2 separate regions of the Homo sapiens genome follow, and region 2 is linked to region 1. The links come from fine-mapping of genetic effects on gene expression. Tissue or cell type: blood mononuclear cells. Region 1 holds a variant in brackets; the other region holds the start of a gene. All regions are shown on one strand. Distances are between the middles of the regions.

Region 1 (8,105 bases):
AGAAGTAAACAAATAAAGATCAAACTTCAAAGTGGGGAAAGATATACTCCTGTCCATCCTCCCCCATTCATTTCAAGTACTAATTCATCCTGAATTTCAAATGTACTTTTCTCTGAAAAGCTATGCTAAATACTCTGTAGCAAACTTTTGTATAGAACATGGATATAAACATAGAACTTTCGAGTGGAAAGAGACTCCAGAGATCATCTAAGATTGGTTCCCCATGCGGGGAGGAGCTTCTAGCCCACCTTGCCCTTTCCTGCTCTTTAGAGTAGTGCCCAGATGGTTTAAGTGATTTGCTCAAGGTCAAGCATCAGAATCAACACTCAGGCCTCCTCACACATCATGCTACTTCCTCCAAAAATTACTTCTCCCCTCTGCTCCCCACTTCCACCTCTGCCCAAAAAAGGAGGAAAGAGAGAAGATCCATAAAGTCATAATGAATGATATCCAAAACATGCGTTAAATAAATAGACACCTTTCTGGTATGTGCCGCATGCCTCAATATGCATCCAGCTGTAGGATGATCACGTCTAAATAAGCCCAAGAGAAGTTTTGAAGTTCCCAGAATGAGAAAGTGTTTGCCCTCTTGTTTTAGTGGGTTTCAGTTTATTACTATCTAGTAATGCCGGATGGTGTCAGAAAGCACCCAACTCAGGCAGCATATCACAATACGAAATCTATTCTATGAAACAGAAATGTGGTAATAATTTTCAAAACATCAAAGTCTCTCTCTCTGAGTACACGAGATCCTTAAAACATTAAGAACACAATCCTTTGCCCCCTCTCCCTGTATTTCCTGTTAATTTCTTACTCTGAAATATTAACTGTTTCTAAGACAACTCAATCAAGAAGTCTTCATCATCGCCCCCTCACTACTGAAGCATATCATCTAAAAAATTAATTCAAGAACATAAAAGTCTTAAAGATAGCACCGGATTAATTAGCACGTGGAACAACAGAATGTCAACATGCTCAAGCAAATGCACAATTGCTGTTAACCTTCACTGAAATAATAGGGGAAAGGCTATAACTACTTTTGAGGATCATCATCTATTACTTTTAAAAGCTGCAGTATATTCTTAATAATAAATGGAACAGCACAATCATTCACTTTTCATACAACACACAGTTTTCCAGTCATTTACAATTCACCAGTTACACTCAAAAATCGCCCCCCCAACCCCCCAACCAACCACCACACCATCACTTCCACCTTTTATGAAAAGACAACAGTTTTAAGCCATTTAAAAAACAGAGAGAGAGAATCCTGGCAGAAAATAATACACAGCTGTGATAATATCGTGTTATTTTAAAATACCATAATATAGTTTTACTTTTAATAATAAAAGATAAAAAAGGAGCGTCTGTGAATAATTAGAGATTGCAGTCTGAAGCCGGTTACAGTCACTGCAATTGATAATAAACTGAAAACCCCTTGAGAGCAGGTAAATGCTTTGCAACCCTGACCCCCTCGCTCTCACATTACTTAACTACCCTTCGGTTCTTGCATTACATCACCATTCAAGCGATTGGTTCCTGCATTTTAACTCTCTCCCTGTCTCCTCCGATTAGGAGCGACACCGCAGCAAAGAAACTTCGCCCGAGTTTGCTCTTTCTCGCTTCGCTCTTTATTTGTGGCCCTTTTGCTCTGGTTGCTTTGGTTTGCTCTGCTTTTTTTTTTTTTTCTTTTTTCCTCCAACCCGGCCTCTGTTCAACTCATTCAGGTCTCTGTGCTAGAACAAAAACTCTGATCGAAGTGAAAAGAAATGCCTCTTCGGGCAAGAAGAGGAGCGGAGGGGCTGGGGAAAGAGGAGAAGGAAGAAGAGGAGAAACAAAGACGGGCAGAAAGGGAGAAGGGGGAGAAAATGAAGAGGAGGAGGAGGAGGACGAAGGCTCAAAAACAGAAGGCAGTAGGGGCAAAAAAAATCTATAAAATCAGGAGAAAAGAAAATAAAATTAAAAACAAACCTCATGGACATCACTGAGGCTGAATTCCCTCCTGAGGTGCAGAACATGAGAGCTCTGGAATGAGTGTGTGTAGAATTTGAGCCAAAGCTTAACTAGCTTGAGTGAGTCATATCCTTCCCATTTGATTCCAGGCCAAGCGATGATGTAATGTGCTGGCCCTTCTTTTGCGCCTAGCTCTGGCTCTCCCTCCGGCTGGGCTCTCGCTCACTTGCTCTCTTTCTCCTGGTCTCGCCCTCCTCCCCCTTCTCCTTTTTAGCTCAGTGCTAGTGAAGTCACCACTTAAATCTGGCAGAACTGAAGCAAAAACTTCAATGTAACCAAAACAGCCCCAGGCTGAGTTCCAGGCTCGGAGAGCCTTCGTGGTGCACTTGCCCTTAGAAACGGGTAAACAAAGGGGGAAACAGTGCCGCTGGGGATGGCCCTACAGCTGCCATCAGAGAGCTCCAAGAGGGACCCGGAGTTCTGCAGGCAGGGGTCAGCTGGTTCTGCTGGAAACAAAAAAAAAATACTGGTTAAAAAAAAAAAAAAAAAAGAGTGCCCTGTGTTTGGAGAAAGGGAAATAACATCAAGACACGTGTAGAGATGGGGAAGCAGGGAGTGAAAGATGGCAGGTTGGAAGGTCTGAGTGTGAAAAACTAACCTCAGTTAGCAGCTTGGGCTTTGGTTCAGAACCAGGTGACAGGGTTTCCATCGCCCAGGGCCCTTTTTTCCTGGAGCTGGATGGGATTTTCTGTTGCTGAATGCCAACCACCAGCCCTCCGGAGACTTCTCGCATCTGACCTCCCTGTCAGCGAGGGCAAAACCACTTCTGGTCCAAACACGTGCCCGTGTCTGGAGCCACCAAGGGCTGTGAAATCACAGTCACTTCTCCCTTGGCCCCTATGGGTCACCCTGTCAGGTGCTAAAGGAAAAAGACCCCAGCCACAAAACACAAAACTTGCCTTTCTGAGATTAGCACTCCACCCTCAGGTGAACCTTCCAAAGGAGAGGGAAGGAAGACAAGTTCTCCCTTAAAATGAAAGACAGGCTGTGCCCCCACAACTCAACTCGCTGGAGGGGGTGCTGGTGTGGGTGGGGCCGTCTGTGACTTTAAAGAGGAGAACAGACAGTATGTGTGTCTCTTTTTTAATTACAGAGTGAGGAAAAACAGCCTGGGGAGGTGGGGGCAGTCAAGCATGATCCTTCACAAATGACAGTGAAGCCTTTTTAATGGCTGAATTCTACCCCTCACTTCACACCTCCCCACTCAGGGCTCCACCACGACAATGACAACAGTCCAGACACTACTCTATTAGCAGGGCTTTTTAACCCCATCATCTCTCC[G/A]TTTTGCTATTTCTCCCCACACTTCATGTTTCCTTCAAAAAGAAAAAAGTAACATGAAAATGGGAAGTTCGCTAGAATTTTTTTTAAATACCACAAAAGCAGAAGAAAGGCATGAAGCTGCAATTTTTTTTTCCTTTTCCAAAAATGACCATGGCTTGTGCTACAGTCTATTGCCCCTAATGCCTTTTGTGGCCAATGAATCAGGTAGATAAGACAAACATTGTCTCTGCACGTTGCAAAGCACAGAGGATCTTGACTTCTAAACTGTGTTTTTGGAGAAATCTCTCAGCTTATTAAAGACGTCCACTGATGGAGGTCAGGGATATTCATCTGAATCCCCTGGAATTTAAATCACAGCTTCAGGGAGTGTTGCCGTACTCAGGGTGAAGAGTTAAAAAGCAATATTTGCCCAAGGGTCTCCAGGACCCTGGGGGTTGGGGTGGGGAAGTGCTTTCTCCAGCAAGCTGCCCTTTGGCTTGACATCCTCAATTGATGCTGATGCCACAGTAGCTCCGAGTGACACCTTTATCAAGGCAGGCAGCTCTGAATTAGAGGTGATCAGCCATAATTACAGCTGGCGCCACTGAAGCCTGTGGCCTGACAGCGGCAAATGTGGTTGTTATAAAGTTTGGTCCACCATGTCAGTGGCCTGTATAACTCATTTACGTCTGACTTGCCAAGCAGACATTGATTTTTCTTCTGCTAAGGGGAATAAATAAAACAAAATTTTCAATAACTTCTACAAGCCTTTACACTTCAAGGCAGGTTGGCAAGATTTTGCATAAGCTACTTTTTCCTTTTTAAATGAGCCATTGACCATCTTGGTTAATATCAAGCTATGGACTTTCACTTTCCCTTCCCTACCCCCCAAATCTCCCCTCCCCACTTTAGTTTTCTTATTTAAATGTTTTATTTATGTTACTATTTTTGGTGCAAAATGGATATGTGGTAGAGTTTTCCAAATTTACATCTTTTTGTAAGCTCAATGGGAAAATGTTCTCTGTAGGATTTTCCTTATACCACATTAGAGGGCCGGGGTGAATCCACTAGATACCAGGCTTCTGCTGTTTTTCAGTGACATAGGCAAAAGGGACCCTGTGCTTTAAATAGAGGTGATGTAAAGATGGCTTTCCTGTGCCTTGCTTGGGAAGTAACAAAGGAGATGATAGCTTCAGCCAATGCCGGGCACGGATCTCAGATGAGACCCGCCAGCATCATTGCTTCTGCCAGGAGGAGTAAGAGAACAAGAGGTTTGAAGGTGGCCAGTGTGCCTCTGATCAGGGAGTGACATCGCCAATGGGTACAGTGTTTCTAAAACCCAGACAAATGCCAAGGACCCAGAAATGTCTGGGTCTGATGATGACGCCGTTAAGCCACCAACGTGCCAGAACACTTCGACATCCCAATAAAACAACTTTGGAGTGCTGGCCTGAATTGAAATCAATTTCAGAGTTCAAAGGTCTGCATATTTACATTTGCACTTGTTGTTCGGGACATAACTATTCCCTCCTGCCCCTTCCAAATCAGGCATTCCACTGGCTGCTGGGTGCCTCCCCACTTGAAAAGAAGCCCTACTTTCCCATTTTCCTTCCTGTGAGCAGCTAAAGAGAGACAAGATCCTGTTCCCAAAAAGAAATGCCCCTCTGACTCAAGAGATTCCTTTTTCACCCATTTGGCCTTCTCCCCTACCCCATGTCCTAGCTGCTCCTCTGAAGAAGGGGGGCTTCGTAGATAGAAGTCATAAGATGCTGTAATTCCAGAGGGAGGCTTCTTAGAAGTAGCCCCCGGCCAACAGGCTAGGTCTCCAGATTAGCTGGCTTGCTCAGGAATGCTTACAACACCCTCCTTTGCAGAGCGTGTCATCCTTGGGGAGAGGGTGGTGGGTACCGCGCAGCTGTTCGGTGTAACTCACTCACACACTCCCAGCCCCTGATGAAATGTTCGGCTCCGAAGAAGTGGAAACCTTTGAGATTTGAGCTCAGAGTTCAGAATGCTTTTGGACTCTTTCCAAATAACCCAATAGAAAAGGCACAACTTGGATTGCAGGGATGGAGGGGCTCAACAGCCAACTAGAGTAGACCTTTTGTGTGCCTGGGTGAATTTCTGAGCTCAAACACGTTATGAGAAACATAGCAAATATGAGAAACAATGGAGATCCTTCCTAGAGAGAGCTGGGGTTTCCCCCCCCCCCCACTTTTAGGTTTGAATTTATTCTCCTCAAGGAAAAGTATATCATCTTCTTTCAAATGTTGTTTTTAAAATTTAACCCAAGATTTCTACAGTCCCGGTGGAGTTTGAGGGGCCAGATAATTTCAGAGTTAAATAAGCTGTAATGACTATCACATGTACCCAGCCATAAACCTAGTATTAAAAATTATTCAGAAAAAAGTGGCATCTCTTCCTTTTTTAATTTACAATAACCATCCAGGTGGTTTTCTAAGTCCTCCTTTGCAAATTGCTTCCAGTGAACCCTCTGGTCACAGACCACTGCACACCCACATGGTGTCATTCAGCATTCCCTTCGACCTGGGTGTCCCGTGTTTTCACAGTGGACAGAGGATGAGGGGCCGCCTAGGTGACCTGGTGCAGCATGCATCCTGAACCATGTGCAGGCAGGATTCACTGGCTTAAATTGTCAGCCCTGCTGAAGTCAGCTCCAGGTGCTCCCAGAGAGAAGACAAGGGAGTGATCTGCCCTTGGTGACTCCTGTCGTGTAACTACTGCACCTCCTATACCCCAACCCTGGCACTAAGTACCCTTAGGCAATTCACTGGCCTTTCCTGTGTCAAAACCTATTTGTAATTCACGGATGTGGCAATGCTGAATGTGTCTCAAACAAAGGAATGAATTTATAATGGTGGAGGCATCAGGAAACCTTTGGGGGTGGATATTAAGAGGTCACAAGAGCCATTTGATTAGCCCTAAAATATTGTCATCAATTCTGCTTCCTATAGTGTTTTTTCTCTAACTTCTTAAAATGTGCAAGTCATTGTACCACTTAAACCTAAACCAATGTCTGAAAGACCGTTGACACTCCTGGAATATTTGTTGAATAAATGAATGAGTGAATGAATGAATACAATCCTCAGCTCAGGCATTATCTTTTCCATGGTCTCCTTGCTGGGCTACCAGACTGGGATAAGGGTGGCCATTACTCTGTGCTCCTTTGGCGTCCTGAAGCAGATTGTATCCCAGCAATAAGCCAGCTATGGAGAGGATCTCTTCATGCTTGTCTTCTTCAGCAGCCATTTGCTTCTCCAGGGCAGAGACTGTGCTATACATCTTCATTTCCCTAGCACCTAGCACCTGGCCCATACATAGTAGGTCCCTAAGAAATGTGACTGGGACTGGGCGTGGTGGCATACATCTATAGTCCTGCTACTGGGGCTGAGGTGGAGGATCACTTGAGCCCAGGAGTTCAAGACTACAGTGAGGCATGATCGCACCACTGCACTCCAGGCTGGGAGACAGAGCAAGATTCTGTCTCTAATAATGATAATGATAATAATAGTAATAAATTAATTAAAGAAAAAGAAATGTAACTGAGCCTGAACTAGCGGCAACACAGGCTGCTCGGTCTTCCCTGAATATGTTGCCTCCTGAAAGTTCTTTTTCCTGTTTGTATTATTGCTCACACTTTTTATGCAGCTTCCTAAAGATCTGAAGCATCTAGAAAACCTATAATAAGAAAATCCTAGGAAATCTACTAGTCAGCCTTCTCCATCCCTACACTATACCTTTTCTCCCTGGAGGGCCTCAGATTCCTCTTGCTCCCTTTTTTTGGACCCCCACAGCAGGGATGGCAGAATGAGCACTCTGTGGTGGATGTCAGAGCAGCTGATCCTAGACTATTGTCACCAGCTTCCTACATGAGGCACCCAGGGAAATTGGAACTTGAGGTGAGAGCAGCTAAATATTCTCCTGTTGGGACTTCTTGCACAGTTGTTGAGGTGCCCTAAAAAAGGAGACACTGCCACCAGGACTTTATCATGTCCAAAGAAAGGTGATGTCAGTTCTAACCAATCTCTATGACTAGAGTGGGCACTACAGGAAGAACTCAAATAATGGTGGGGGAACAGGAGGTCCAATTTTTTTTTTTTTTTTTTGAGATAGGTTGATACAGTGTCTTGTTCTGTTGCCTAGGCTGGAGTGCAGTGGCATGATTTCAGTTCACTGTAGCCTTGACCTCCTGGGCTCAAATGATTCCCCCACCTCGGCCTTCTGAGTAGCTGGAACTACAGGTGTGCACCACCATGCTTGGCTAATTTTGTTTACATTTTGTAGAGACAAAGTCTCCCTATGTTGCCTGGGCTGGTCTTGAACTCTTGGACCCAAGTGATCTTCCCAGCTTGGCCTTCCAAAGTGCTGGGATTACAGGTGTGAGCCATAGTGCTCGGCCAAGGAGGTCCAAACTTTTGTGGGTAAAAGTTTATACGGGATTGGAGCCTAATGATGTTGTCAGACTAACTACACTGATTCATGTTCTGGTGTTGAGTGGAGCCAAGACAAGGCATAGTAGCTGATCAAGACTGGCTCAGAGCAGTTATGCTTGGGAGAGGTGGACAACCCAACTGATGATGTCCAAGAAAGAGGCCTTTCCTGGAGGCTCTGTGGGGAACCTTGGTTAAAGGAGATTATCAACCAAATTCCTACTTTCCCCTTTGACCAAGGGTGGTGACTGGACCAGTCCAGGTTGAAGCAAGTGAGGTGCCTAGGGTGCAAAATTTAAGGAGGTACTCACTCTCAGGTGCAGGTCTGCAATTGTCCAACCCTGAGAATAATTGCCCCCTTAAATGTTGAGCCATAGGGGG
Region 2 (8,105 bases), 270 kb after region 1:
ATCTTAAATACAGCACAGACTAAATATCATCTTAAATCAAATGTGTGGTGCTCTAGAGCCCTCTGTGTTGCATGCATGAATTTTTTTGGTTATGATTGGTCAAGTTTTGCCAGTCAAACCTCAAAGAACATACTTCCAGACTCAATTCACTTCTCGTCACCTCCAAACACACTCATATATATCCATCTGGAAAGATAATGTATTACAGACAGATCCTAGGCAAAGGTACACCTTCTAGAGTGAAAACATCACCCGTTTCTCTATTTGACAAAAAAGGTTATTTATTTTAACTTTAAATAATATTTCAGATCCCGTCCTCACAGATAATAGAGAAAAGACAGGTAGTAGAGAAAGTCACTGCCTTGTTCTTGAGACAGTCTTTCAGACCATTTTTAGTCCTGCCTGGTTTTTACTCTCAAATGAAATCTGGATGGTGTGGTTTTACAGGGTATGTCTCATAACAATGATGAAAAAAGGAGAATTTAAGTTAAAATTAATTAAGGAGGCCCTTATTAGAAAAAATAACATTGCAGATATTATATAAGAATGAATGAAATAGAAACTACAGTTTTTATGATTAAGGTGTTCATTCCAAAGATCTGATAAAAATTTGTCTTTGAAAGATTAGTCATCAAAAGGCTTGAAAAGAGTGAAGGATACAAAGTCATAGGTTATGCCCCATTCCTGACAAGGGCATTTATGGCAGGAGCACCCGACCTGGAGGCAGGGACCAGGCTTCTCAGCCTGGTTTGGCTCTCTCTAGCTCTGGGCCTTGGGTGAGCCAGGGGTCTCTTCTGTAAAATGAAAAATTGGTCTATCAATCCGAGGCCCTCCCCTAGCCCTACCATCCGTGTAAAGCCATAAGCCTTTGTAACTCACCATCAGAATCTCTAGGCCTAAAAGAACTCCCTCTAAAATCAGTTCTAGTCAAACGCCAGCCTGGTAGTTTTCAATCCTTGTTAAGGATTGAAATCCTAAAATCTTTTTAGGGTTAAGATCAGAAATGTAACCTTAAGGAAATAGAAGAAAGCAGCTGAAATACATATTTTTAAAGTGATAAACTGATTCTGATCTATTTCTCAGGGGGTGAGGGGGAAGGCAATACAGTGAACTTGGAAAAAAGAAATATTGAAATGTCAATATAATATCTTTTATGGGTTCAAGAATTTATCCTAAACTTTATCTTTTACTGTGACAGTCCCAGAGTCCTCAATAAGAGCTTCAAAAATTTTAGTGGGGTTTCTGGAAGAGTGCTATCACTATCTGGAAATTTCTAAAAGGCTTCTCTCTTTTTATAAAAAAAAAAATTCCTATGTTAAATCTATGATTTGTGATTCTCAACAATGGAATACTAATGGATACTCAAAAAACACTAATTGCTCATTTTTTTCCTAATTACGAAATGTAATAATTCTTTAGTGAAAACATTAAACATGATGTCATTTTTAAAGTGCCAGACTTTGTATTTAAAGCATTGCCACAAAATAGATAGCTTACTTATTTTACAAATAGCAACACAAAAAGGGTCTTCTGTGTCTTTAAGTCTGTTTAGCATATCTGAAAGTGCTTCTTCCTCACACTTAGATATTTAAGGCAATTGCCCCCCAGTTTATTACCTTATCTCAATTGTATAATTTTCTTAAATAGAATTCAGAGAAATAGTCATAGATTTAAATTTTTAAACACTAATTAAGCATTGGTTGATTCCCATAATACAGCTGGTAGTCAAAGTGGACAAGATAATGAATTGACTGAGATCACTGTTCCATCTTCATCCAAGAAAGCTGCCTCTAAAAAAAAAAAAGACCTTAAATTGCTGTAGAAATCCAATTTGTAAGAAGCAAAAGAAGCATATAGATGGGAAACACCAGCCAGGATCACATTAATTTTGTGACTAACTGCATTGCTTAGAAGAAGAAGAAGGAGAAGGAGAAGGAGAAGAAAGAAAAGATGACAAAAATAATAAGTCCACTCAAATCCCAATTTTAATCCAACAACATAACCAGAAGAAAATGAACTACAAATACAAAGTTCACATCTTAGTGATCTAGTGAACACTACACACCGACAAAATAATTTTTAGCTTAGTAAGAAGTAAACTCCAATGACAAGAAAATATTATAGGATTGTGATACCTCATTGCTAAAAAGTAGATTATAGTAAGAAATTGGGAGTCTAGGAACTTGCCATCATGGAAACTCCATGATTGATTGGTTTTGAATGTGCAGGTGTGGGAAACTGACAAATCATTGTAACAAAAATCTTAAACTTACTAGAATTGAAAATCTATGCAGGAAAAGTCTCTGTGACAAACTACCATTCATTTAGCCACCTATTCAAATAAAAGCTGTGACATAACAGAGATCTAGAAATAAGGGCATGGTTTCCAATTTTTTGTTGGAATGTTCTAATAAACTATCTTCTCAGGTATCAACTATATAAGGTCACGACTGACCGCTAATTGACAGGCAATTTATCGGCACCAGCAATTTACATTAAAAATAGTGGGCTTGGAGATATTTTCAAATATGTTTACTATGAGTTAAGTTGAAAAATAAAAACCACTATAATCAGTAAGGATTTAAAAATAAGAGATCCATATAAAATGCTATAAGCAAAGGAAAATGAGAAACATTTCTGGGGAGACACAAGTGAGTTTTATTATACTTCTTCTTTTAAGTTTTAGAACTAAAGTAATAGTTGATATTCAACCCATAGAATCATCCTTCAGGGGCATACACATCTAGGTTTGAATGCGGAAAACTGTTTTATTGTTTTTTTTTAATTTTTAGGTTTCTTTTTCAAGAACTTTCTTATTAAAACTTAAATACTTATTGAAGTGATTCATGAAACCTCACAGAAAGGGGAATTCATGCTTGACACATTACTTAACATGCTCCATAGCTTCCCCACTGTAGTTCATATGCTTCTGAACATATTTTACCTGGGAAATAATAGTCTTATTCACACACACACACACACACACACACACACACACATCCTTCCACATAAAATGCTATAAGTCCCAGGAAACTGACAAAAGCAACATTAAAATTTTGTGCAAAATCTAAACTCCATTTCTGAATTCCATCTATGAAAATACAACATTGGTTCTATTTAACTAAGTGCAAAGTTTTCTCTCTGTTTAATATGCATAATAAACATCATCCTTACCATTATCTGTAGAATAAAAGCAGCAACGTGTTGCTTCCTGCAGTCACCAAATCAAGTTTTTTCTTCCTTTCTTTCTAGTAACTTCTGTTTCACCAGCAAGATTAGGAAGAAAATAAGTCTTGAGTATTTGCCTCAGTATTTCAGACCAGAAGATAGTGAAACTAGCTTTTAGTAAAAAGAACAGGTCTGGTATTTTACAATTACTTCTGCAACCCAGAGGTACCTCCTAGACTCTGGTACCTCCCTCGTTCTCTAAGTTTCTTTTAGTAATGAGACTAATTTTTCCAGTAGTCTTGAACTCCCTAGATTTAACTGACATGGAAAATGTGACTAAAAATTTGTGGAACTGTCTAGCCTCCAACCCTACACAGAATCAACTTTGTTGTAAATGTTGAAGAACACCTCGCAAGCAGCTACATGCTCAGTTTATACTCCTGCGCTACGCAGCAGAGAACACCAAATAACAGTGCGCCATCTAGTTAGCAAGCTGCAATCTCCATGCTAGAAGGGGGGACACTTTCAAACCCTGGGAGTTAAGAACTTGTCAGGGTTCAGCTGCTCTAAAGGTCCAATTGTTTGTTTAAATAAAAAAAAATATCGCTACTGAGATAATCCACATCTAGTGGATATGGGAAAATTTAGGTTATAATGGCACTACAAACTTTTACATCTAACTTTGATTTACAAGATAAAAGCAAGTTTTAAATTAAAAGGGCTTTCTGTTAATAGAGCTTATTATTCTGAAGACGGGAATGATTTTCTTCGAAAGTTGTCCCTGGGTGCATGCCTATTATCTTTGCTTTTCCCCTTCCACTAATGAGCATTTATCTAAAGAGCCTGTTAATCCTCTGATGTGTGCTTCTGGTCAGAGGTAACAGTTTGAATAAAACCACTAATCACTGATCACTAAATCACTGATCATTAATCACACTTTCCAGTGCCCATGACTGGGCCATTTTTTTTCCTTTAAGTCTATGCATCACAAACAAGAAGTTCAACATTTTCGATGCACATATATTGTGTGGAGGTTACACTATTTCATCTCTAGATGTGAATAAATACTAAATCCTGCCACAGACTTGGGGAAGGATGTCAATTAGACCCCAGACAGGAGTTTCACAAATGCCTACCCTACAGCATGGCTTTCGCTTTGAAGAAAGTAGATCTAATTATAAGAAAACATGTGTTCTTCAAGAAATTCCCACATATTTGCAATATAAACTTTTCTTTATTTAGTTTTCACCAACTCCAAATCAGGGACCACTCCAATCCCCTCTCTCCCTCTATCCAAAACTCTGTTAATACTTTTTTAAATTTAATTTCTGCTGCACACCTCCCTCACGCCCCCACCCCCCCACCCCCCACACCGAGGGTTCTTTTTACTTTGATCCCTTGCAACAAGTCATACACAGGGTCTTTATTTCAACTGCCAGATACGGAGGTTCTGACTCAGTTCAATGACTTACGTATTCGACTTCCTCTTTCAACATAGAAACTTAAGGTTAAGAGCTAGAAACTAACGCACGCAGCAATTTATTGTATGGAAGTTTAGGTTCAACGACTCACATTCCCTCACTTTGGAAATGAAACGTTTAGTCTTGATCCTTTCAGCTAAACCTGATTTTGTCAGCATCCCTCTTCTGCTAAAGGGCAGGCACTACGTAAAGTGAAATACTTTGTTTGCAGTGGGTGTATTGCTTTCCTAAGTCACCACCACGAGGACAGAGTATTATCATAACGCTTGCAAACATTTCCTGATTTGCCTTTTCTATCAGGACTAAGCATTTTCGCCCTAGAGGAGAAGGCTTACTGGTGCCTTTCTTAAATAATACAAAAGGGCGGATTGCGCGCTGATCAGGTACAGTGGTCCCCTCAGACCCCAGAAGCTTTTACCCACACTCCAGGGACCGTGCTCGCCCCAGGGAAAGCTGTAAAAAGGCGGGGGCGGGGCTAGAGTGATAACGGTGTAGACGGGGGAGTGGTGGAGAGGGAGGGGCTGGGAAGAGAGGGCAATAAAGATGCCCAGGGAGCCGGCGATTGCACGAGTGTGTTGTGGGGAGGGTAGGGGGATGCAAAGCAGAGTTGCTTTGTCAGCATTCTAAGCTCCTGAACCCTTGAGGAGCTCAAGCCGTTAATCAAACACTTACTGGCCTGCAGAATGACGTAATGGACCTGTATCCAGTCTTTATTCCTTGACACATGTCAGAGAAGGAGGGAAAAATAAAAATCAAACACATTCTGCAGACTGACAACGAAATATACAAGTAGCCCGCTCCAGTCCCCGGCCTTGAGCAAGCATCAAGTGGGGGCGGCACCGGTCCAGGGAAAGTTGGGGATGGGGGTGAGAGTGTGGACAAGGTCTAGGGCTTTATCTACCAGACGCCCCTTAAAAATAAATCTATGGCAAAGAAGAAGCGGGATGCAGCTGCTGAGAGAAAACATCTCCTTGGTTCCTTCCTTCGCATCTTGCCCCTCTAAGAACTTCGTGAAAAGTTCAAGTGATTCTGCCGAGAATCTGCCGCAGGGGGAGACTCCGCCGCCAGGTCTTGGGAATTGCCTGGGCGCCGCCAAAGCTCGAGCCGGAGCTGTCATTTGGGGCAGCGGCCGGGAAGAGGTAACGATGCCAGCAAGAAAGCAGCGGAGGCAGGAGGCGGCCGGAGGAGTGGACTGGAGCGGACGGAGCCTCGCCGCTCTCCAGCCCGGAGCGCCTGGAGCGAAAGCCAAGCGCCCTCCGAGGGCGACCTCCCCTCCCCGGGCGCGCGCCCACCCGCTGCAGCCGGCAGCCCGGCGGGAGAGGTGGCAGCTGCAGCTCCGCACCGGGGAGAGCGAGCCCCCTGCGCGCGCGCCCACCCGCCCCCTAGGTGACCCGGCGTCCTCGCCGCGCCCGCTGGAAGTTTGCAAACTTTCTCCGGGGGTTCCGCCGCCACGCTGGGAAGCTGGGGACGCGGGGGGAGGTTCCTGGCTCGCCGTCTCCGCTGCCGCTTGACCGCACTTCTGGAGGGCTCCGCACCTTGCCAGGTCTCTGGAGGCAAACACACACCCCCGATTCATAACTGGTCCCCGCGTCAGGGGACTCGCGCGCTCCCACACACGCACGCACGCCGGGCGGACTCGGCGCCGGCTCCACGTTAGCATCCCTCCAGGCGCGCGGCGCGGCGGCCACCGAGCGCTCCGGCACTCACGCGGCGCGGGGTCTCTAGGGTGGCCTCAGGACACAGCCGAATTCCACAGTCTACCAGCACTCGGGGCCGGACTTCCCTCTGGTCCGCCAAAATGTTTACAAACACAGATCACCCTCCAGAAAAAAATGCATCGCATCTTCCCTACTCCTTGCCCTGTGACCTGCCCACTGGACCAAGTAACCTCGCGGCTGCTGCCGAGAACCAACCCCTGCAAACAAGTACACTCCCGAGATGGCTCCTGCGGCAAGTGCAACAAAAGTGGCTAAATGCAAAAGCCCCAGAAGTGGCCGAGCCGTATTTTTAGGAACTTACCAAACAAGTGTGGAGAAGGCAAGAGCGGAGCCCGGGTGAAGGGACCACGTTGGACTGAGCAAAGATTACAATACATTCTATTTAGAGTGCATTACATCACCCCCCCGGTGACGTCACGTGGGATTCCTGAACTTCTAAATCATTGCGGTCCGCTGGGGAGGGACGGAGCGAGGGGCGGGGCCGGCGCGTCGAGGGGGCAGGCCCCGCCCCGGTCCCGCCCCGACCCCGCCCCGCCCGCGCGGACCCTGGTGCACCCGCCCGGGAGCGGCAGCGGCGGGGGCGACTGCGCAAGCAACAGCTTGCAGAGCCCAGCGCCGTGTGACACGGCTCCCTGACATTAGTGGTGTGAGTCAGCTTGGAAACAATCCTTATGGTTTCAGACAAGACCACGGAGGAGGCGCGGGCGTGGGCTCTTCTGCGGGGAGGGCCTGATGGGGTTTGAAAGGTGTAGGGATGGGGGTAGGGGAGAGGTGGGGAGGGGGATGCTGAAGGATGTGGGAAAAGACTTTGCAAACAGAAATGCAGGACGCTCCTCCCTCCCCCACCGGAGGATGTCCAGCTCCTTTTTGCTTGCGACAGTCATGACCTCATTTCAGTGCTCCCTGCATCCTGGCTTTTCAGAGCACTCACTTGTCACCCCTTCTTCACCGCCCCCTCATCTCACCTCCTCCAGGAGAATAACTTCCTTATGGTGCACACTCTCATGAAATACACAGCCCCACCCTTCGCGGGACCCCTGCTTCATGCGTCTGAGAAGCTGTAGGGAGAGTTGCTCCTAAGGCGAAAGGTGAATCACAGCTAGAGCCAAGTGATGAGCCTGATTTAGACACGGCGTCAGAGCCGAAAGGGCCCTTGGCTGTCACTTCCAGAGCCTCTTCGGTAACTGGCCCAAGCTCACGGGCTGGGGAGCGGCAGAGCCAGGGCCAGACTGCAGGATCCGGGCGCCTGGTCTGCAGCGAGAGGAGCCTGGCGTCTCCAGTATCCGGCCGTCACCATCACTGTCACCATCCCCCTGCTGAATTTCCTTTCAGAAGTTCTCCCTTTGAGTAGGATTCAAAGAGAAGGCATAGGCTAAATCCAGCCCGATTCTAGACGACCAATGCCAACCTCGCAGCCCCTCACACCTTACAAAGCGCTTGCGACCACGTGATTTCCCTTGTTTCTCACACCAACCCGGGTACCAGAAGTAGGACAGGTATTATAATTATTCCCATTCTACAGGTGAGCTAAGGCAGACACCAGAAGGTTGGGGGCTGGCCTGAGATCACTTGATGAGCAAGGGGTGGCACTGGGCCCAACTCAATCCCTGTTTTCAAGCCCAGATCCCAACTGGGCTCCTTCATAGAGCCAGGGGTAAGCATTCCCTTCTTGTGGGTTATTGGTGGTTGGAACCTCTGCTAAGAACACATTGGCTGGGAGATGGAGCTTTGCTTAGAA

What was found. PIP is the estimated chance that this variant, and not a neighbour inherited with it, causes the effect.
Region 2: it holds the start of CREB5, and the variant in region 1 is fine-mapped to the expression of CREB5 in blood mononuclear cells (TOPMed, PIP above 0.99). The same link has a PIP of 0.9 or more in monocytes.

The regions. Positions count from the first base shown.
Region 1 is chr7:28,680,064-28,688,168 of GRCh38, reverse strand. The region is part of intron 5 of CREB5 (cAMP responsive element binding protein 5); the gene reads right to left. Among named protein-coding and RNA genes, the nearest start is that of CREB5, 270 kb to the right of the region's middle. RefSeq lists enhancers at 2,242-2,750, 2,967-3,016 and a silencer at 2,689-2,858. The variant G/A (reference allele first, on the strand shown) is at 3,295.
Region 2 is chr7:28,407,987-28,416,091 of GRCh38, reverse strand. CREB5 (cAMP responsive element binding protein 5) reads right to left here and starts at 3,574. Exons shown (of 11, transcript NM_182898.4): 1 at 3,175-3,574. The coding sequence starts at 3,177. RefSeq lists an enhancer at 3,488-3,577 and silencers at 6,850-6,919, 6,888-7,182.